Homo sapiens: one gene and its partners. The protein of the gene in region 1 interacts with the protein of each later gene in a pairwise test. Each region holds a gene or a part of one and is shown in the gene's direction. Other genes may lie near its edges.

Region 1 (8,155 bases):
AGTACCAGCGGCTCATGGACATCAAGTCGCGGCTGGAGCAGGAGATTGCCACCTACCGCAGCCTGCTCGAGGGACAGGAAGATCACTACAACAATTTGTCTGCCTCCAAGGTCCTCTGAGGCAGCAGGCTCTGGGGCTTCTGCTGTCCTTTGGAGGGTGTCTTCTGGGTAGAGGGATGGGAAGGAAGGGACCCTTACCCCCGGCTCTTCTCCTGACCTGCCAATAAAAATTTATGGTCCAAGGGAGGAAGGACGTTTGGTTTATTATTTCAGCCCATGGAGAGAATAGGTCGTTCGGTTTGTTATTTGAGCCCATGGAGAGATGGGTCCTGCCTTGGCCCTGTTTAGGTTTTATTTGAACCAAAGTTCACTCTGTCCCAGGAAAGGGAGGGGAGGGTACTCACATACTTTGCCTGTAATGGTAATTCCTGTTTACAGAAGTCTTCATTTATTTAACCCGTTCCTTAAAATAACCTCATGAAATAAGCATTGCTTCCATTTTACAAAAGTAAACTAAGGCTCAGAGAGGTGAAGTGTTTTTTTCTATATGTAACTGCTCTAATGCATGGCAAAGGTGGGATTTGAAATTGTTTTTGCTTCTAGATTTAGTTTTCTTTCTACTCTACTCCCCAGGGCGTTGAGGTATCTGTGTGAAATTAATGTTTATTGAACACCTACTATGTGCCATTGAATTAAAAACAGCCCTAAAAGGTAGTATGAGCTGCATGTTATAGATCAGGAAATAGGCTCAGAGAGGTTCAGTAACTTGTCCAAGGCCACACAGCAACTACATGGTAGAGCCAGGACTAGAACCTAAGTTGCCTGATTCTTAGCCCATGGTGCCAGCCCCTGCCAGGTGGTCTCCTGGAGTTGACGCCACTTGTGCCGGTCTTGCTGACATTCCAGTCTTGTGCCCTATGAAGGCTCAGGCCGGGGATCCCTAGGGGCAGTTCCTCCCGACACATTTCTCCACCTCACTGAAACTGGGGGTTTGGGGCCAGGCATCCCGCTTGGAGCAAGGCTGGGGAGGCTGTACCTGTCAGTGTGTGTTGTGTGTGTGCATGCACTAACACATTCACCCATTTTTGGGGCAGCCCTGCATAAGCCCTTTAACGCCCACCAGCCCATACCTGGGCCCAGAGCCCAGAATGGGACCCAGCAGTGACCCAGACCTCCCACAGAGACCCCAACCCTGGCTTGCCTGGGGCCTGCCCTGGGCCAGCAAAAGAACGAAGTCCCAGCTTCCTGGTACAACTCTGCCCTTGGGTAGGTATGGCCCTGCTCCTGTGGTTTACATCTCAGCTGCCAAGAACTGAGGCCAATTCAAGGTAAGGAAGAGGCCCCAAAAGAAGTCCCACTTCTTCCTGGTGGAGAGGTGAGGGCTGCAGGCCCAACCCTATGAGTGATGGGGGCAAGTGAGGGACACTAGTTCCACGCCCGCATGCTGCCAAATGTACTCAGCACCCTGCTAAGGAGGCTGGAGACCCCATCACGGCCATGGCAATCCCGAAGGAGGAGCTGTTTCAAGGTTGGTTATGAACATGTAACCCCAGAGCCCCGCTGCTGTAGCCTGGACTGGGACCCCCTTCTGCCCCCTCCCTAGCTGTCCTGTTCTGGCCTCCAGCACCCACAAACCACCACCCCCAACTTAACTTCTCAGGAAGCCTTGGAGCTGGAGGGAGAGGCCTGGCTGCACCCCCAGCTGGGACTGCCCAGAGGCGCTTGTCCCTGCCCATGAAAGCCTCCCTTGTCACAGCTGAAACCTTCCCTCTGCCTCAGGGGCCCCTGGAATGTGGCTGCGGGGCGGGGTCTGGGCCCACACAGGTGGGGCAGGTGACTGTCAGGTCTCAGGCCTGAGTGTCAGGAATGAAGCCTGCCTTTGTGTGTGCACAGTGCAGGGTGGGGCTGGACTGGGGACACTTTTCTGTCTCAGCCTGGAGACCTGGGATAGGAGGGAGAGGGGAGTGGGGAAGTTGAGGGGAGTGCCTTTACATCCTGCTGGTCATCGTGGCCACTTCAGTCTGTTGAGCATTTCCTGTGAGTCATCTTGCTCCAACTGAGAGTCAGGCTGAGCTGGAGTTATTTCCATTTTCCTGATTGGTAGACTAAGGCTCAGAGAGAGGAGGCGGCATTACCCAAAGCCGCACAGCTGGTAAATGGGAAAAGAGGGGTTTAAAGGTAAGTCTCTGGGCTCCAGGACACACCCCCTCTCCCTGGCATTTCCCTGGGGAACAGGAGAGGTGTGGGAGGGTTCTAAGGTTGTTGGAGACTTCATTCTCCTTGTGCCCTCAAATGCTCACTATGGCCCTGAGGGGAGTCTGTGTTAATGGCCTAAGTTTAAATCAGGAACCAGGCTCAGAGAGGCTGAGTCTCTTTCCACTGGGCTGCACTGCCTCATTCTAAGGAGAAAAGGCCAGCTCCACAGATGGCCCCATCTGGCTGCAGTGGGCAAAGGTCAGAAACTGGCACAGCATCCTGGGCAGGCTGCCTGGGGCAGGGCCCGGGGCTACAGCCTGGGCTGGGGCCAGACAGAGCTTTATCTTCGCAAGGCCATCCCACCTGGTGCTAATGAGGAGGCTCCGGGCCCCACCCAGATCTGGAGCTCACAGTAGCGGTTTGGACTGAAACCAGGGATTTGTGCGTGGGGCAGTGAGGGGGGCAGCTGCCGCCCCTGGCCTGGGCCTGAGAGTATAGAGAAAGCCACCTCGAGGGGCTGCTGGAGGAGAGTCAGGTGCAGAAGGGGATCTGGCTGGGGTCCAGCCCTTCCTCACCCTGGGGTGAAAGGCGAGTAATTGTTCTTGAGTTAATTGCTGGGGCCACAATGTCTGCAGAGGCTTTTAATGAGCTCTGGATGATCTGAGTTTGATTATTTTTCTTTCGGAGGAAAAGACAATACCCTCCCACCCATGAGACAATACCACACTGTCTGTGCCCAGCATTGGAGGCCAGGCTCACTGCGAAGATGGATGAGAAGGAACCCACCCCCAGCCTTGCTGGCTGGCAGTTCCCCTTGCCAGCCCAGCTCAGATGCAGGAATTTGGGGTCTGCAGGAAGGACTCTTTCCCTGTGCCCTGTTTGGTTGAGGGTGTGAGGACCTGTTTGAGTCCTGGCTTTGCCCCTTACCAGTGGTGCCACCTGGCACAAGTTGCTTCACCTCTCCAAGTTTCAATTTCATTCTTTCTGAATCTTGGGTGGGGGTCACCCTCTGTTGTGAGGATGAGAGGAGGTGATGGATGCAAAAGTGCTTTGTAAATCACAAAGTGCAGGGTAGAAGTAAAGGATTATGCTATTATAGCAAAATAAGAACCTAAGAACAACCTGCGTTGCCCCATAGGAGCTGGCTATGGAAGGTCGATGCCGTTGAGCCTAAGAACATGCTCAGGCTCACAGGGCATGTTCTGATGCCCAACGACAAAGCCCCTCCTGGTGAGGGCACTCAGGCGCAGGTGCCGGTCATGCACCCTGGCCCCTGCATGTCTGGCACCTGGGTGGGGATCCAGGAGGGGGCAGGATGGGGGCTCTTGGGCCACAGGGCTTCCCTGGAAGTGAGAGTTGAGAGCGCCCCTTGCCACAGGGAAACAGAGACTTAAAAAGGTAAATGTCCACAGTCTTACCATGGTAATTGGTAGGGTCAGGATTTGAACCCAGGCCTCACAGTCTTACCATGATAATTGATAAAGCCAGGATTCAAACCCGGGCCTGAGGGACTCCAGAGCCCTGTCCACTTCACCATGCTGCAACCTGGGCTAGGAATCCTCCTCCTGAGTTTCTGTAAGCCCTGGGGCCAGGTCCAGAGGGCTGAGCCACACCTCCAAGTGGCACTGCCCACAGGTATCAGGTGTCCCTGGAAAGGTGTCCCTGAGCTGGTGGCAGAGAAAAGGGCTCTCCTGAGTGTTCAACTCCCCGTCTGTGTGAAGCAATGCCTTGGTCTTCAAGATCTCCGGTGTCTTCCAGCCTGCCTGCCAGTCTCCCTTCTCTTCCCTTCCACAGCATTCAGGCACATAGAGCCTTCTGCAGCGGCCCGTCCCCAGCCAGCACTTGACAGGACAGATGGGGGCTAATCTGGCCCTGCTAAGCAGCGACATGCCTCTCCTGGAGAAGGCAGGGGCTTCCTGGAACTTGCCCCAGCCTTATCAGCGGAGGTTTGCCCCAACACATCCCAGAAACGAGCAAAGGTTCAGCGCCGTGCAGTTGGCAGGTGTCGGGATCATCAGTCATCCCCTTGTCAGTCCCAAGCCTGCTGGGCTTTTGTGAGGGTGCCAGGAACACAGGCTGGAGGATGGCAGGAGGGGAGTAGAGGTGGGAGGAGGGGAGTCCATCTGCAGCACCAGGTAAGGGGATGGATGCTGGCTCCTCTGGTCACCTCAGCTGGAACACTACTCAAGGTCCCTGGCTCCTGTCCTCCACCTGCCCCCAGGGGCCCTGCATTCCCATCCCCAGGGCCTCCACTCTCCCTGAGCCCTGCAGTCTCTCACTCACTCACTCACTCACTCATTCACTCACTCACTCACTCACAGGGTTTTGAGTTGGATAACACAGCATAATGATCGGCCAGTGGACTCCCAAACTAAGAACACGGAGCTGTCCTCTTGGGGAGAGGCTCAGGGCTCGGGGAAGTGAAGTCCAGCTGAGGGCACAGTTGGCCTGAGCTGCTCTCAGTACAGGCAGAGGCCTTGGTAGCTGTGCTGTGATGAGAGTTCGCTCCCTGCTGCTCTCTTCTGGCATGGAGAGATGAACCTGTAATCCAAGTGTTAAAACCGTGCCCTGGGGAAAAACACTATTAATTCTGAATCATCTCTTTTGTTGCATTAAAAAAAAATAGAAGAGAAAAACTTCACATGACCCACTCAAGGTGTGCAGGCAGCTGTGTTTGTCAGGAAGGCAGAAGGAGTTGGCTTTGCTTTAGGGGAGGAGACGAGGTCCCACAACACCCTCTGAAGGGTATATAAGGAGCCCCAGCGTGCAGCCTGGCCTGGTACCTCCTGCCAGCATCTCTTGGGTTTGCTGAGAACTCACGGGCTCCAGCTACCTGGCCATGACCACCACATTTCTGCAAACTTCTTCCTCCACCTTTGGGGGTGGCTCAACCCGAGGGGGTTCCCTCCTGGCTGGGGGAGGTGGCTTTGGTGGGGGGAGTCTCTCTGGGGGAGGTGGAAGCCGAAGTATCTCAGCTTCTTCTGCTAGGTTTGTCTCTTCAGGGTCAGGAGGAGGATATGGGGGTGGCATGAGGGTCTGTGGCTTTGGTGGAGGGGCTGGTAGTGTTTTCGGTGGAGGCTTTGGAGGGGGCGTTGGTGGGGGTTTTGGTGGTGGCTTTGGTGGTGGCGATGGTGGTCTCCTCTCTGGCAATGAGAAAATTACCATGCAGAACCTCAATGACCGCCTGGCCTCCTACCTGGACAAGGTACGTGCCCTGGAGGAGGCCAATGCTGACCTGGAGGTGAAGATCCATGACTGGTACCAGAAGCAGACCCCAACCAGCCCAGAATGCGACTACAGCCAATACTTCAAGACCATTGAAGAGCTCCGGGACAAGGTGAGTCCTCGGATGTCAAAGAGAGGGGAGCAGGTGGCTGGTACCCTGTACACAGCTCTAATGTCAGTGTTACTGCTGACTCAAGGAAATCCTTTCCTGCCCAGGCAATGACTGTCTGGTATGTAATCTCAGCAAATTTGGAATGCACCTGCTGTCCAGGTGCAGAGGCCAGTGCACATCTTCTCAACTTGGTGGTGCTGGGGGAGGGAGAGAGGGGTCTTGGGAATCTGGTTAGGACCAACAGGGGCACAGGTGGGGGCAATTATAAAGAGCCAGAGGCAGTAGCTCACACCTGTAATCCCAGTGCTTTGGGGGGCCAAGGTGATAGGATTGCTCGTGTCCAGGATTTAGAGGCTGCAGTGAGCTATGACTGTGCCACTGCACTCCGGCCTAGGTGACAGAGTGGAACCTGTATCTAATTAAATAAAAATAATTAAAAAAAAAGAGCAACTCGCCCTCCCTACCTCATGCACCCTGCAGGCTTCTGCATAAAGTATTCCTTTACCTCTTTTGCAAGAATGGGATTGGAGTGTGGCCTCATGAGTTCCAGATGCTAGAACCTCTTGTCTTTTCCTATAAAGAGGTCTTTTGTGCCAAAAGTACTGTTGGGTCTTAGGAGACCTGGGAACTCATTACACATTCTGCCACCCACTCACTCACCATTTTACTCCCTAAGACTGGGTTCCTCATTCGTAAAATGCCTTCTTAACTGCCCTCCAGGTTGCTACTGGCTGGAATGTTCTGTAGATCCATGGCTGTGTCCAAGGTGTGCAGGAGGCAGTGACCATGAGTTGTCCACAGTGGGGCTGGTGGAGTGTCTCTGAGAGAGCTATTGTCAGAGCTGGCTGCACCCCACTGCCCCACTCTCCTGGGCAACCAATTCCCACAGGCAATACTGCCTCCTTGGTCTTTCGTGCCCTGGAGATAAGGAAGGCAGCTCCTCAGGTGTCTCAAGGAGGCTGGATGGGACAAAACAAGAAATGGACACTGAAAGTGAGGCTGGACTTTGCCCACCCCAGAAGCCGTACAGATTTTTGTTGGTGGTGTCAGAGGGGTGATTGTCAGTGAGGGGTGATTTTCAATGAGGGGCTGGCCTTGGGTGCAGAGCAGAGAGCAGCAGGGGAGAGAGAGGAGTCCTCTAGACACCGACTCTGTCTCCTGCAGATCATGGCCACCACCATCGACAACTCCCGGGTCATCCTGGAGATCGACAATGCCAGGCTGGCTGCGGACGACTTCAGGCTCAAGTGCGCTCCCCCGTCTCTCTCCTCTTCCTGCATTGCCCACTTTACTTGGCCTTCTCCTGGCTCTGACTCAGGCAGCCAAGACCCCTCCCACTTCCTTCTTTGGCCTCCCTCTCCTCAGGTATGAGAATGAGCTGGCCCTGCGCCAGGGCGTTGAGGCTGACATCAACGGCTTGCGCCGAGTCCTGGATGAGCTGACCCTGGCCAGGACTGACCTGGAGATGCAGATCGAGGGCCTGAATGAGGAGCTAGCCTACCTGAAGAAGAACCACGAAGAGGTGAGAGCTGGCCCCCATCACCCCTGAACCCGAGAGAGGTGGGGAACCTCTTCCCAAAACTCACTTAAATTGCCCAGAGGGAAAGACAGTGGCTCCAGGAAGCCCTCCCAGATTTTCACGAGATTAAGTCAGTGGGAGGCAGAGTGGGGCTGTTGGTACTTCCTCATAGTTGGCCTGGGGCTTAGTGGTTCAGAAACACACCTACCCCACAAAACCAGGTGTCCTCATGGAGAGGAAGGGGCAGTGTCTGGTAGCCCAGGCCCACAGCCAGCCCAGGTGGCCCGTATGAATGGTTGACTTCCTGATTGGCTTTGTGAGCTCACATCAGGGCCCTACAGTCTCGGGGTCCTCCCTTGGTAGGACCTAGAGCAGCAGAGAACTCCTTAGAGCTGAGGGGTCCATGTGACCAAACCTCTTCATGTGCAATGGGGAACAGCGGTTGGGGTGTGTTACGGGCAGAGCCAGGATTGGCATGTGTGACGCCAGACTCTCAGGTCTCTCTTCTGCTCTCCGTCTCTAAGTGGGTCCCTCCCATCCTGCAGGAGATGAAGGAGTTCAGCAGCCAGCTGGCCGGCCAGGTCAATGTGGAGATGGACGCAGCACCGGGTGTGGACCTGACCCGTGTGCTGGCAGAGATGAGGGAGCAGTACGAGGCCATGGCGGAGAAGAACCGCCGGGATGTCGAGGCCTGGTTCTTCAGCAAGGTGGGCCTTATATCCTGCCCTGCCCTTCCTGCCCCAGGTCCCTGAGTCTCCGAGGAGGCCCCGGGGCTCACTTCTGTTGTGCATGACCTACAGACTGAGGAGCTGAACAAAGAGGTGGCCTCCAACACAGAAATGATCCAGACCAGCAAGACGGAGATCACAGACCTGAGACGCACGATGCAGGAGCTGGAGATCGAGCTGCAGTCCCAGCTCAGCATGGTACGGCCACTCGCGCCCCATCCCAGCCTCTCGGGTGGTAGAAGCTCCCACTCTTCCTGGCTATTTAAGCCTTGGAGTTCTCAAGCCCCCTCAAGAGGTGGTTCCCTGAACTCCATTCAGTGCCCCCTCCCTGCTTGCCCTCAGTGGCTTCCTTTCTAGCCTGATGTGTCTATGCATC
Region 2 (7,479 bases), on another chromosome or scaffold:
ATCCCGGAGTCTGGTGGTCCGGGTGAGCGGGAGGGATCGAGGATGAACTGGGAGGAGGAAGGTGGAGCCGTAGGAGAGGGATTGAGGGCGGGGCTTGGAAACAAATGACAGGGGAAGTCCAAGAGAGGGAACTCGAACCTTGAAAGCGGCCGAGAAGCTACAGGGGAGGGAGACCTGAGTTCTAAATTAGGAACTCAAGGATTAGAGTTTTGGAGAGGCGGGAGAGTGAGGACTGAGGGAGCCGAAAAGGGCGGTGACCGGAGTATTCTAAGTAAAGTGTTTTGTAGAGAGGACTGTTGAGAGGAGAGTGTTAAAAAGAAGGAGCATTTGGAGAACCGAAGTAAGAGGGGCAATCCAGCGTGGCCTCTCCAGCCATGCTTTTTGCAACTGCCTAACATGTGGTGTTCTATAAATCCTCTTCCCCAGGTTTGCAGGAGGCCTAGGGAAGAGGGCAGAAACTAGGGATGGAAAAGTGAGATGGGCACAGCCTAGAGAGGAAGCATTAAGGCTCTTGAAAGCAGTAAGGGACATGGCCTGGGGATCCAAGAGGAGATGAGGGTGGGGGAAACATTCTGCCACTGTTTCGATCTTTTGTCTCTTTTTCCCTCAACTTCCTGTAGATGCCCGCCAGGGATGGCTGGCTGCCCTGCAGGACCGCAGCATCCTTGCCCCCCTGGCATGGGATCTGGGGCTCCTGCTTCTATTTGTTGGGCAGCACAGCCTCATGGCAGCTGAAAGAGTGAAGGCATGGACATCCCGGTACTTTGGGGTCCTTCAGAGGTCACTGTATGTGGCCTGCACTGCCCTGGCCTTGCAGGTATGAGGCCCTGGCCTTGCAGGTATGAAATCCTGGCAGTTGAGTCCCCAAGGGAGACCAAGTGTGGGAGGGGTGCCGTGGATTGGAGGGGCAAAATATGGGTTCAGGAGGAGAATTGAGGAACTAATCTCAGCTTCCATTCCTCCACAGCACATATCCTACTTTTTATCAAGAAGGGTGTACTTGTCCTTCCCTAAGCACAAGATATGCTTCTCACCTCTGCAACTTTGTTTATGTCCTGCTTGAGATCCCTTCTCTTCAGTCCTACCCTTTCTTCAAAACCACTTCCCTAGGTCTGAAGAGAAGGCCTTGTCTGTCTTTTCACTGGGTGGTTGGCACAGGCTACTACTTTGCGTAGCTATCAGGTCACCCCATCTATTCTATAAGTTCTCAGGGTAGAGACAGGCCATCCTTACATCTTTGGGACCTCACCCAGCACGCACCCTCCACATGGTGAATATTTGGTGGTGATGCTTAGGAGAGAGGTGGGGGAGAGTTGCAGGCTAGCCTGTGGTGGGGGCAGATCTGGGTCTGGGTCTCCCAAGGTCGGGCAGACTAGGCCACTGGGATACCCAGCCCCTTATCCTTCCACAGCTGGTGATGCGGTACTGGGAGCCCATACCCAAAGGCCCTGTGTTGTGGGAGGCTCGGGCTGAGCCATGGGCCACCTGGGTGCCGCTCCTCTGCTTTGTGCTCCATGTCATCTCCTGGCTCCTCATCTTTAGCATCCTTCTCGTCTTTGACTATGCTGAGCTCATGGGCCTCAAACAGGTGAGGCTCCGAGATCCCTACCTATGACCTCTGACCCATTTTAGAACTCCTCGTTCCCTTTCAAGGGTTTCCCTCCTCCCATGCTCTTCTACTGTCTCCCTGCTTCTCCCTCGTGGCCCTTCCCTTTGACTTTCCCTCGTAAGGGCAGCAAGCATGGGCCTCCTGGGCCTGGGGAAGGTACATGGATCAGAAGTCAGGATCAGGGATCCAAGTCTCAGAAGGGGGGTTCCTGGGCCTGAGTTCTAGAAGGGTGGTGCCTGGAAGAGGAGGAAAGAAGTGCCCAAGATGAGAAAAGGGCTTGACTCCATTTCTAAGCTCTTCTCCCTCTCTTAGGTATACTACCATGTGCTGGGGCTGGGCGAGCCTCTGGCCCTGAAGTCTCCCCGGGCTCTCAGACTCTTCTCCCACCTGCGCCACCCAGTGTGTGTGGAGCTGCTGACAGTGCTGTGGGTGGTGCCTACCCTGGGCACGGACCGTCTCCTCCTTGCTTTCCTCCTTACCCTCTACCTGGGCCTGGCTCACGGGCTTGATCAGCAAGACCTCCGCTACCTCCGGGCCCAGCTACAAAGAAAACTCCACCTGCTCTCTCGGCCCCAGGATGGGGAGGCAGAGTGAGGAGCTCACTCTGGTTACAAGCCCTGTTCTTCCTCTCCCACTGAATTCTAAATCCTTAACATCCAGGCCCTGGCTGCTTCATGCCAGAGGCCCAAATCCATGGACTGAAGGAGATGCCCCTTCTACTACTTGAGACTTTATTCTCTGGGTCCAGCTCCATACCCTAAATTCTGAGTTTCAGCCACTGAACTCCAAGGTCCACTTCTCACCAGCAAGGAAGAGTGGGGTATGGAAGTCATCTGTCCCTTCACTGTTTAGAGCATGACACTCTCCCCCTCAACAGCCTCCTGAGAAGGAAAGGATCTGCCCTGACCACTCCCCTGGCACTGTTACTTGCCTCTGCGCCTCAGGGGTCCCCTTCTGCACCGCTGGCTTCCACTCCAAGAAGGTGGACCAGGGTCTGCAAGTTCAACGGTCATAGCTGTCCCTCCAGGCCCCAACCTTGCCTCACCACTCCCGGCCCTAGTCTCTGCACCTCCTTAGGCCCTGCCTCTGGGCTCAGACCCCAACCTAGTCAAGGGGATTCTCCTGCTCTTAACTCGATGACTTGGGGCTCCCTGCTCTCCCGAGGAAGATGCTCTGCAGGAAAATAAAAGTCAGCCTTTTTCTACATATGGCATGCAGTCTGTCAGTGTCTCCCAAGCTACAGGGCTGAGTTTGGGAAAGAAAGCCAGAGGGAGCCTGGGAGCACCGAACTGGAGTCTGGGCAGCCACCACGCCCTCTGGCAACCGCTGGGGTTCGGCCACCCCCGCAGACCCGCCCCCACTTTGCCAGAGCGGCCGGGTCCCCATTCCCATTCCTTCAAATCCCCTTTTTCCCGGCAGCCGACCTGTAGACCCAAGGGAGACAGGTTGAAGCTAGAAAGAGTCGGGGCAGCAGCTCTGGTAGGGGAGGGAGCATCCAAAACCTCTGGCTTCTGAGCGCCTCTCCTGCCGCCCATCCACAAAGCCCCCCACAGCCTGGCGGCTGCCCTCGACCCCGCAAAACAAAGGACTTCAGAGGCTGGACCTACAGACCCAGATGAGAAGGCAAAAGCGTAGGGAGGAGCGGCAGGAGATGGGAAGGGCGGGCCCCGCTCGGAGCAGCTGCCGCTTCCTCCCAAAGTCCCACGAGGGGCCTGAGTCACGGGCCACCGCCCTGGGTCGGCGAGCTGGGGGAAGGGATCTGGACACCTGGCGTGTCCGGGCGGGAAGCTGGTGAGGGCCCCTGGGGACAGAGCGGAGGACCAGTGGTTGGGGCGAGAAGAGGGCAGTCCCGCAGCGAGTCCCACGCGGGGTGGGAGGGATCTAGGCCCCGCCCTCTCCTCGGCTCCGCCCTGCGCCCCCTTCCCTCTCCTCATTGTCCTTAGACAAAGCGGTCGCCGCCCCCGCCCGGCCCCCTGGTCTCTGTCTCCGTCCCTCCTCCTTTGCTGCCTCTTTCCCTCCTCCTCTCCCTCCCTCCTCCCCTCCCTCCAGTCTCCGGATCTCCCTCGGTCCCTCTCTCCTCCTCTTCCTCTCTCTGGACGCCCGGCTCCTCCGCACCCCCTCCCCCGGGGGTCCCGCGGCCTGTGAGTTGACTGAGGGGCTCAGACTTGGGGAGTGGGTGTCTCCTCGCCCCTGTCCTTGCTCCCGTCCCTGGCCCGGACCTTGGCTGTCTCCTCTTTGTGCCGAGATTGTCAGTCTGTGCGGCTACAGCGGGGTGGAGACGGCCGGCTCTGTCACGGCTTCATGAGAGCGGGGACGGGGCGCAGGACTTGCAGGCGCCGGGGAGAAGAGACATGGAGCCGGCCCTTGGCACTCTGGGGTCGCGTGGGGCAGTCGGTGGGGGAGGCAGGCGGTGGTGACAGGACAGGGTGGGGGTGGACGCCAGGGTTCTGGGAACGCGCTGGCAGCCCTGACGCCCGGGTTCCGAAAGTCTCGGGGGTGGCTATTTCCCCCGACCCGCCTCGGGGGCGGAGTGCGGGGCAGAGGGGTGGGGGCTGGGGAGAGGCGTGGCCCGAGCGGTGCTGGAAGCGGAGCCGGGACCTTTGGGGCCCGCGCTGAGACGCGCCCGGCTGCTGCCGCCGCCCTCCTTTCCCCTCTTCCCTGGTTTCCCTTCTCCTCTAGACCTGTTCGCTCTCCGCCCCTCCTTGCCTCCCCAACACCCCCTCAGGTCCCGTTGCCTCCTGGTCCTTTCAGGGATTCCTGGTCCTTCCTTCCCACACTAGCCTCCCTGGGGTATCGCTGAGGCAGCCTGGCCTGCACCCAGGTTCCCCTCACCCCTGCCACATTTCTCTCTTCTCCCTCACGCCAACTTTCCTTTTCGCCCTTCTCTCTCTTTCTCACATCCTAGAGACGGTCTTTAATACGCATTAACCCTGTGCTGCCACATCTGGCTCCTGCCCTCATTGCCTCCAATCCGGACTCTTCCTCTCACATCACCCCCACCACCCCCAACTTGGGCTCACAACTTCTCTTCACTTTTTCCATTTCCCCAGTTCTCTGCCTTCCGTCTTTCCCTCTGTCCTCATCCTTAGCCCCTCTGCCCTGCTTTGTGTCCCACCTCTCCCCCTCCACTTCCTCTCCTCCCACCCTCAGTCTCACCCCCGGGCTGTCTCACTCTCTGGAGCCTCTCCTTCCTGTTCTCTGTCCCCAGTGCTCCCTACCCTCACCTCAAGACGACCATGGCCACCATCCCAGACTGGAAGCTACAGCTGCTAGCCCGGCGCCGGCAGGAGGAGGCGTCCGTTCGAGGCCGAGAGAAAGCAGAACGGGAGCGCCTGTCCCAGATGCCAGCCTGGAAACGAGGGCTCCTGGAGCGCCGCCGGGCCAAGCTTGGGCTGTCCCCTGGGGAGCCTAGCCCTGTGCTAGGGACTGTAGAGGCTGGACCTCCAGACCCGGATGAGTCTGCGGTCCTTCTGGAGGCCATCGGGCCAGTGCACCAGAACCGATTCATCCGGCAGGAGCGGCAGCAGCAGCAGCAGCAACAACAACGGAGTGAAGAGCTGCTAGCAGAGAGAAAGCCTGGGCCTCTGGAGGCCCGGGAGCGGAGACCCAGCCCTGGGGAGATGCGGGATCAGAGCCCCAAGGGAAGAGAGTCAAGAGAAGAGAGACTAAGTCCGAGGGAGACCAGAGAGAGGAGGCTGGGGATAGGGGGAGCCCAAGAGTTGAGCCTGAGGCCTCTGGAGGCTCGGGACTGGAGGCAAAGCCCAGGAGAGGTGGGAGACAGGAGCTCCCGACTGTCAGAGGCATGGAAATGGAGGCTGAGTCCTGGAGAAACTCCAGAGCGGAGTCTGAGACTAGCAGAGTCTCGAGAGCAAAGCCCCAGGAGAAAAGAGGTGGAAAGTAGACTGAGCCCAGGGGAATCTGCCTACCAGAAGTTGGGCCTGACAGAGGCCCATAAATGGAGACCTGACTCCAGAGAGTCTCAGGAACAGAGTTTGGTACAACTGGAGGCAACAGAGTGGAGGCTGAGGTCAGGAGAAGAAAGACAAGACTACTCGGAAGAATGTGGGAGAAAAGAAGAGTGGCCAGTTCCAGGGGTAGCTCCAAAAGAGACTGCAGAGCTGTCCGAGACCCTGACAAGGGAGGCCCAAGGCAACAGTTCCGCAGGAGTGGAGGCAGCAGAGCAGAGGCCTGTGGAAGATGGCGAGAGGGGCATGAAGCCAACAGAAGGGTGGAAATGGACCCTGAACTCCGGGAAGGCTCGAGAATGGACACCCAGGGACATAGAGGCTCAAACTCAGAAACCAGAACCTCCAGAGTCAGCAGAGAAGCTTCTGGAATCTCCCGGTGTGGAGGCTGGAGAAGGGGAGGCTGAGAAGGAGGAGGCGGGGGCTCAGGGCAGGCCTCTGAGAGCCCTGCAGAACTGCTGCTCTGTGCCCTCCCCCCTCCCACCAGAGGACGCTGGGACTGGAGGCCTGAGACAGCAGGAAGAGGAAGCAGTGGAGCTCCAGCCCCCACCACCAGCCCCTCTGTCTCCCCCACCCCCAGCCCCAACTGCCCCCCAACCTCCTGGGGATCCCCTCATGAGCCGCCTGTTCTATGGGGTGAAGGCAGGGCCAGGGGTGGGGGCCCCCCGCCGCAGTGGACACACCTTCACCGTCAACCCCCGGCGGTCTGTGCCCCCTGCGACCCCAGCCACCCCAACCTCTCCAGCCACAGTTGATGCTGCAGTCCCGGGGGCTGGGAAGAAGCGGTACCCAACTGCCGAGGAGATCTTGGTTCTGGGGGGCTACCTCCGTCTCAGCCGCAGCTGCCTTGCCAAGGGGTCCCCCGAAAGACACCACAAACAGGTAGGGAAGCAGCCAAGCCAGACTTCTTAGAAGTCCACTTGTCAATTTTCTCTGGACTCTGGTCTCTTTCTTTTTTATACCCCTGTTTTCTTGTCTTCCTCTATTCTTTCTTGTTAATTCCTGCCACCACCCTTCCTCGCTCTGCACATACACCCTTCCTTCTCAGAGCCCTCCTTTTCCATTTTGAGCCCAAAAGATCCTGCCCCAGCAAAGGCTGTCTCTGGGTGTGTCTCTTTCAGGGTGTGCCAGGCTGCTCATTCTCCCTTCCCTTGGGCTCTGAGTTTCCAACCCCCTTTTCTTTCCTTCCTTTCCTGAGTGTGACCTGCCCCAGCCCATCCAGTGGGAGAGCCTAAAGTGACGAGCTTGAATCAGTGAGGGCAGGGTCACCAGGGTGAGAGCACTTGCAGTTTTTCTGGGGAGAAGGGATAGGGAGCCTGGGGTGGTGGAGGGGGTGGGGTGGGTTTGTGTTCTAGGGAGAAACTGCAGGGAGAAGTGAATGGAGAAAGGTCCAACTGCCCCGTGGGAAGGAGGGCAGAGCTGAATAGGGACATCCTAGGATGGAGGGGAGAGGGGAGATGGAACCGGGCCGGCCAAAGATCAGAGAGAAGGCTTTTGAACCCCGAGTCTGCCCCATGGGAGAGACACAGAGAGGCCATTTGAAGTGGGTGACCTCGGGGTTGCACACCCCCAGCTGGGCCACTGCTTCAGACAGTGCTCCCTTCTCTCTTGGGACAAGAAAAGCCTTCTCCTCTTCCAAAATACCCCCGCCCCTCACTCCCCTGTCCTTCCTCCCTGGGTTTCCCCTCCCTCCCAAGAACTGGCTCAGGGATCGGTTTTCCCCTCTTTTCCTGCCATCCTGGACTTTCCCTCCCCTTAGGGTAGCAAAAGAGAGAAGTGAATTTGGAGACAGTTTTGAGAACAGGCACTGGCCAGGGAGCACAGTGGGAGTTCTGGACAGGGGTTGGGGCTGAGGCCAGCAGAGGGTCAGAGGTTAGACTTGCAACAAAGACCTGCAGGAAAGTG
Region 3 (7,261 bases), on another chromosome or scaffold:
ACTGCGGTCAGGGCAGGACATGGGGCACAGTGGCATGGTTGGTCCTGGTGTGCAGCTGTTTTTTATGGGGTCTTGCTCTGTTGTCCAGGCTGGATTGCAATGGCGCAATCACGGCTCACTGCAGCCTCAACCTGCCAGGCTCAAGCCATCCTCCCACCTCAGCCTCTCGAGTAGCTGGGACCATAGGTGTACATCACAATGCTTTGTAGAGATGGGGTCTTGCTACATTGCCCAGGCTGGTCTTGAACTCCTAGGCCCAAGTGATCCTCCCACCTCAGCCTCCCAAAGTGCTGGGATTGCATGCATTAGCCCCAGTGCCCAGCCTCCTGCATTATTTTAATGCTTCCATTATGTTGATGTACATAGTAGCTAATTCCCCACCAAGGAGCATTTTGGTTGTTTCTGGTTTTTCCCTCTTACCTAAAAGCTGCAACGAGTGTTTTGCACTTTTGTGTCACTGTGGTCTTTGTTCTTATAAGTGGGATTTTTGCCAAGTTGTATTCCAAAAAGTTGTGCAACCAGGTGTATCCGAGGGCATGTGGTGGTGGCTGGGTCTCCCTTTAGCCAGAGAGAAGCTCCTAGGCCTGTGCAGTGTCTGAACCACCCCTCGTGATTATCCCCAGTCTGTTCCAGAAATAATCCAGGATCTTCCCATCTCTGTCTTGAGAACACTGTGTAGAATCACGAATGTCTATGTAGAAAGGAAAGGGAGGGCAGGCCCCTCTGTAGGCTCTCATTGCAGAAGGACTCTGTCCAGCCCAGCCACGTGCCGCCCTCTGCTTCCTCTAGGAGGCAGACAGGCGGATCCTGCAGGCCCTCCTCGAGAAGGAGGACGAGAGCCAGCGCCTCCACCTGGCCAGGCGGGAGCAGGTCATGGCCGATGTGGCCTGGATGAAGCAGGCCATTGAGGAGCAGCTGCAGCTGGAGCGGGCGCGGGAGGCAGAGCTGCAGATGCTGCTGAGGTGAGTGGCAGCTGCTGACTGGGCTGGATGCTCCTGGCCTCAACTCTGATACCTTGAAATGCCCCATGGGTCACCTGTTACTGAAATATCTATTGGCTGGGCGTGGAGGCTCACACCTGTAATCCTAGCACTTTGAGAGGCCGAGGCAGGTGGATCGCTTGAGCCTAGGAATTTGAGATCAGCCTGGGCAACATGGCAAAACTCCAGGCTCTACCAAAAATACACAAATTGGCCAGGCGTGGTTGTTCATACCTGTAGTTCCAACTACTCGGGAGGCTAAGTGGGAGGATCACTTGAGCCCAGGAGGTTGGGGCTCCGATTAGCCATGACTACACCACTGCACTCCAGCCTGGGTGACAGAACGAGACTCTGTCTCAAAAAAAAAAAAAAAAAAAAAAGAAGAAGAAGAGATAGCTGTGTATGTTGTCCATCATTCCTGAGGAGCACATCTTCATAATGGACCTGGCCTCTGGGGGTGTTTCCCTTGTATTATCTGAGGTGGAAATCATTAAGGTTTAGAGTAACGATGTGTTCATCTGAAATCTTAGAGGTTTAGAAGGAAATTATTTTTTTTTTTTTGAGATAGAGTCTTGCTCTGTCACCCAGGCTGGAGTGCAGTGGCATGATCTCGGCTGACTGCAATCTCTGCCTCCTGGGTTCAAGTAATTCTCTGCCTCAGCCTCCCGAGTAGCTGGGATTACAGGCGCCCGCCACCACACCCGGCTACTTTTTGTATTTTTAGTAGAGATGGGGTTTCACCATCTTGGCCAGGCTGGTCTTGAACTCCTGACCTTGTGATCCGCCAGCGTTGGCCTCCCAAAGTGCTGGGATTACAGGCGTGAGCCACTATGCCCAGCCAGAAGGAAGTTATTATAGAGATGTTGAATGCTGCTTACATCTATAAAACTGAGTTTGGGTCCTAAAGACTAAACTAGTAGATTGAAATCATCAAATAATAAGTAGCATACATTGAGCACTTACTGCATGCTGGACACTGTGCCGGGTGCTTTACAGGCCTCATCTTACTGAGTCCTGACATCCAGCCAAGTGGTGGCTTGTGAGACCCGGAGACTTGAAGAGGTCACTCCGTCCAGGGTGAGCTATCAGTGACACAGGCATGCGGTGGCAGGGTTCAGGCACAGGCAGCGCCCTCCTCTCCATGTTCTGATGGTTTCATTCATCTCTGTGTTAAACAGCCACGGTGTAAGTCATCCCAATTCCTTTTTATAAGGAGATGGGGTATTAAAAGGGTAACTTAAAATACTTCCAACAGGGCCAGGCACGGTGGCTCACGCTTGTAATCCCAGCACTTTGGGAGGCCAAAGCAGGTAGATCACTTGAGATCAGGAGTTCAAGACCAGCCTGACCAACATGGTGAAACCCTGTCTCTACTAAAAATACAGTAATTGGCCAGACATGGTGGCACATGCCTGTAATCCCAGCTACTCAGGAGACTGAGGTACTAGAATCGATTGAACCTGGGAGGTGGAGGTTGCAGTGAGCCGAGATCGCACCACTGCACTCTAGCCTGGGCAACAGAGCGAGACCCATCTCAAAAATAAAAAAAATGAAAAACTTCCAACAGTACTTTCCGTGGATGCTGTCCTTAATTGTAATCTTTTCAAAGTGCATGTGGATGTTTATCTGCAGTGTGGTCCTGCAGAAGCCATGTGCCCTGCAGCCCTGTCTGTTCCGTAGCTCGCTTCCTGCCAGGGCGGGGAGGAGCCTGCTGTCATCCCTTTTGTGTTTGCCCAGGGAGGAGGCCAAGGAGATGTGGGAAAAGAGAGAGGCAGAGTGGGCCCGAGAGCGCAGCGCACGGGACAGACTGATGAGCGAGGTAATCCCAGCTGCGGCGATGTGGACCGGCTGTTGGGTCTTGGGCAGGTGTCTGGAAGTCCATGGTCAGTCACCCTGCCAGATGCTCTGGGAACAGAGTCTTCTCTGGTCATTTTAAGTGGGCTTTAAAAATCATTGAAAAAGTAATATGAGCTTAGTAGAAAAGAATTCAGAAGTACAGGAAGTAGAAATGGAAAAAAGTCCCCCAGAGCCCATCCTGTATGCAGCCGTAGCTGCTGCTTCTGTCTGCTCTTCTGTTTCTATGCCTGACATTTTTTCTACATGTATTTCTTACTGTCTTGTGCTATTTGGCTTCAAGCGTTGTGACATGCTGTTACATCTTTATAAACGGCATGTCAGGGGCTGTATCACGGACTGTCCTCTGTCACCCGCTGCCTTTCCATTCCCTCTTATGGGTGTGCTGTGTTGTTCTAATTGGAAGCCATTCTGAGAAACGCTGCAGAGAGCCTCTTGGTGCCTGAGGCTCTTCCCACACGTTTCCCCCCTCGGGGTAGATGACAGCCGTGACCTGGAGGACATAACTGCTTTCCTGGTCAGTGTGTACACTGTGCGTGGAAGATATACCCCAACCGCAGAGAAATCTGGGAGGAGAAGAGAGAGTGTTACCCATGGGCTGAAAGCTGTTGTAAAGTGGTTTCAAATGAGAAACTCTACGTTGTGTCTGGTAGTATGCTGTATTTTGGAATCCACAGGAAATTGGGTCGTGATTGGTGATGTTTTGCTCTTGTAAATACCAAGAATTCTCCAGTGCCTTTTGATTTTCCTCATTTAAATTTCCCTCCTGATGGCGGCCACTTTCTGTTCCCCCCAGCCCTGCAGCCTAACTGTTGAGAGTGTCAGGTGGTTTTCTGCTCCTGACTGTGGCCTGGGCTGGAGTTCAGATGTCACACGGCTCTGGGGCCAGGTCTCAAACACAGCAGGTTCAAAAGGTTAGAGGACCACCCCAGCTCCACCTCTGGTCATCTGTGTGGCTTGTGGCTCTCTTGTTTTTGGAACCCGCTGATAGGAAGGAGACTCACCTTGTTGCTCCAAGGTTTCTCTGGCCCCGGGGAGACAGCTCCATCCCCATCTCCTTTGATTTCTTTGGCACTCAGCTGTCTCTCCATAGTACACAGTCTGGATACATTTTGTGTGTCTTGGGTTGCGAGGGAAACATTTCTTGTATACTGGCAAGCGTGGCCGACATCGTGAGAGCAAATCCTGTCATCTGGCTCTGCCTCTGCGTACCTGGGCCTGAGGCCCAAGGATGAGGCTGGGCCTTGCTGTGGCTGCAGCCTGTCCAAGGCTTGTAGAACCAGGATCTGTTAGGGTCAACCTCAAAGCTGCCCTTTTCTTTCTGCTGAGGTTAGGTTCTGACAGGGAGACAACAGCAAATACAAGAGAAGATTGAGCAGAACCGACGGGCACAAGAGGAATCCCTGAAACACAGGGAGCAACTTATTCGAAATCTTGAGGAGGTGAGAGAGTTGGCTCGTCGCGAGAAAGAGGAGAGTGAAAAGCTGAAATCGGCCAGGAAGCAGGAGCTGGAAGCCCAGGTAGGGCTGAGCCCAAGGGCGGGAGGCACCGGGCCTGCCAGGTTCTCTGCATCATCATGGGACAGGGTTCAGAGCCGCTGGACTGCCTGGCAGGGCTTGCGCACGTTTGAGAGCACGGTGCTCCCGTTTCCATCCCAGCTGCAGTCCTCATCCTCTTGACTGTGGCTTCTTTCCCTCCACATCCTCCATGTCGTGTGGGTGAGGCCGGTACTGCTGTCTGTTCTCTTTACTCTGTCTGCTTCTGCAAGCAGTTGGCTTACCGGGGGCCATAGATCTCTCTTCATTTCAGTCCCTGATACATAAGACAGAACAGTCCTCCAAACACCTGGCCACAGGCCGAGCTTTTCACGAGGTACACGCCACGCATATGTATAGCCTCTCCAGCTTTCCATGAGGTACACGCCACGCATACAGCCTCTCCAGCTTTCTACGAGGTACATGCCATGCATACAGCCTCTCCAGCTTTCTACCAGGTACACACAATGCATACAGCCTCTCCAGCTTTCCACGAGGTACACGCCACGCATACAGCCTCTCCAGCTTTCCACGAGGTAAGCGCCACGCATACAGCCTCTCCAGCTTTCTATGAGGTACACACCATGCATACAGCCTTTCAAGTCCCGCATGCTCCCTTCCGTTCCTTGGCACGTGCATTGCTGTTGCTCAGCTGGATTCTCCAGTCTGGGTAGGGCCGCAGGCTTACCTTCCTCATCAGAGGCAGGGCTCTGCCCTGTGGGCCTTGTCTTGGGGTGGTGACTTTGCTCTTGGCACTCAGGTTGCAGAGCGCCGGCTGCAGGCATGGGAAGCAGACCAGCAGGAGGAGGAGGAAGAGGAGGAGGCCCGGCGGGTCGAGCAGCTCTCAGATGCCCTGCTGCAGCAGGAGGCGGAGACTATGGCTGAGCAGGGCTACCGGCCTAAGGTAGGAAGTCTGCCAGGATATAGGCCAACACCGGCAAGACAGACTCTGCCCGGCCCCTGCTCCCCTGGGCCTGCTCATCGCCCCGCGCCGGGGTCTGCTCTCCGGCCGTCCGGGTTATTCCTTGTTTCTCTTCTCTTGTATTTCTCTCTTCCCTGACCAGCAGGGAGCCCTGACACAGGGGCTGTTCCAGTCCTTGGTTGGGCCTCAAACCTTGAAGTGATTTTGCTCTGGCCTTGCCTACTAAGCTGCATGCCTGTCCACCCTCTTTGGTCAATCTAAGAAGAGCTGTGGCCACAGCTGCTGAGAGGGGTCAGAGCAGTAGATCTAGGCCTCAACTGTTGAGACAGTGAAGCCCGATGAACAAGAGACCAGTCCTCCTCCTCACCTCCCCTCCCTCCCTCCTGTGGGTGTCCTCTTCCTCCCCTCCCTCCCGTGTGTGTATCTGTTTCTCTGCCTCTCAGTGTCTTTGTTCCCGGACCTGTCTGCACAGCACCATGGGGAGCACAGAGAAGCAAATGCTGCCTTCCCTGCCCTGAGGAAGCTGATGACTGAAGCACCTCCACTGCTGGCTTGTCCCCTCTGCCCTCCTTTACCTAGGGCCACCCTGGCCACCCGGTGCCTAGAGTGCATTCCCCAGGACACATGCTGCAGAATGAGGGCTGGCTCCCTTGTGGTCAGATGACACTGGGAAACTGAGTGAAACATAATTAGAGCAGGTGCTGCGTTTGCCATAGGCCACTCGCCCTCAAACACTGACTGTCACAGTCACAGGGAACAGCATTTCCTAAACCCACTTGGCCGTGGATCAGTGAGAGTGTCAGGGTCAGGGTTTCACAGATCATATGTGAAAGTGTTTCTTAGGGCTAGTACTCAAAACCAAAAAGATATCAAGTGCCTCATTTATGGCTTAGGGTCAGATTTTTTCAGCTGGAAATGAAACAGCCATTTATATTGTTCTTTTAGCTTGTAGTTAAAACAAGGTTAATTCCTCATGCTGCAGATACTGCTGATCTGATCACTCTTATGTTTTCTTTCTTTTCTCAGCCTTACGGACATCCAAAAATTGCTTGGAACTGACTTCATGGGTACCATAAGTACAGAGAACAAGGGATGCTGAGGCTTCTGATCCCAGCCGCCAGGCAGTTTTACAGGGCTCTGTTAACAGTAAGTGCCCGGGGCACTGTCAGATGGCTCAGCAGTGCCTGCTCAGGTTCATCATTGAAACATCCCAGTGTTTGGCCAGACATTAAGGTGTCGTGAGAGTCCCTTTCATGCCTTTCTTACCCAAGCAAGGGTCTTTGATGGGCACGTGTTTACAGCGCTGCTGCATAGTCTTGTAATATATTAACAGTCACATCAACTGAAGGTCAATACTAAGAGCCACAGGTTGTACCTGTGATGGGGCGTGTGGTTTCCTGTTGTCTCACCTTTAATTGTCAACCTCCAGTGTTGACTCTAGAAATATGAGGAAAGCTTTTCAGTTTTTAAAATTGCCATTTAAATTTAGTCTATTAAAAACAAACCTAGAGGTCTTGGTGCAGTTGATTTCAGAGTTTATTAATTTAGTGGTCCCAAAAGTATTACATCTTTTATATTCTGGAAGAAAAGAACTGTGAACAAATTAGAACCCCGGAACACTCTGACGTCCATGGACGCATTCCAGAAAAGTGGCAAGAGATGAGTCTTTCCTCCTCCAGGAAGCATTTTGGTAGAATTTCCATAGAGCATTGTCTGTGAGTGACTGATCCCAACATGTATGTTACTAAGCCCCAAAACGAACTTCAAACTGGGTGTGGTGGCACGTGCCTTTAGTCCCAGCTACCCGGGAGGCTGCGGCAAGAGGATTGCTTGAGCCCAGGAGTTCGAGTCCAACCTGGGCAAAAGAGTGAGACCCCATCTCTAAAACCAAAAAGGTACCTTAGAAGGTCACCTGGTTGGCTAACCTTTTAAAGGCAGGGGCGTGACACGTAGGACACATTGGGAATGTC

Evidence for each region. The genes of interacting proteins can lie anywhere in the genome.
Region 2: the proteins of KRT15 (region 1) and PPP1R18 interact in binary tests that used the Homo sapiens proteins (3 or more experiments, as listed by UniProt).
Region 3: the proteins of KRT15 (region 1) and TCHP interact in binary tests that used the Homo sapiens proteins (3 or more experiments, as listed by UniProt).

What each region holds. Positions count from the first base shown.
Region 1 is NC_000017.11:41,515,707-41,523,861, reverse strand, and holds the start of KRT15 (keratin, type I cytoskeletal 15), read left to right. Parts: upstream 1-4,971; 5' UTR 4,972-5,034; coding exon 5,035-5,532; intron 5,533-6,644; exon of another isoform or gene 6,645-6,696; coding exon 6,697-6,779; intron 6,780-6,897; coding exon 6,898-7,054; intron 7,055-7,575; coding exon of another isoform or gene 7,576-7,596; coding exon 7,597-7,758; intron 7,759-7,851; coding exon 7,852-7,977; intron 7,978-8,155. Other genes in the region: KRT19 (keratin, type I cytoskeletal 19), read left to right, coding at 1-119.
Region 2 is NC_000006.12:30,683,385-30,690,863, reverse strand, and holds the start of PPP1R18 (phostensin), read left to right. Parts: upstream 1-4,218; 5' UTR 4,219-4,817; coding exon of another isoform or gene 4,818-4,845; coding exon 4,846-6,456; intron 6,457-7,479. Other genes in the region: NRM (nurim), read left to right, coding at 1-22, 621-817, 1,394-1,588, 1,922-2,203.
Region 3 is NC_000012.12:109,910,274-109,917,534, forward strand, and holds part of TCHP (trichoplein keratin filament-binding protein), read left to right. Parts: intron 1-789; coding exon 790-962; intron 963-2,717; coding exon 2,718-2,799; intron 2,800-4,168; coding exon 4,169-4,354; intron 4,355-5,129; coding exon 5,130-5,273; intron 5,274-6,317; coding exon 6,318-6,350; 3' UTR 6,351-7,261. UniProt on the Homo sapiens protein: Tumor suppressor which has the ability to inhibit cell growth and be pro-apoptotic during cell stress. Inhibits cell growth in bladder and prostate cancer cells by a down-regulation of HSPB1 by inhibiting its phosphorylation.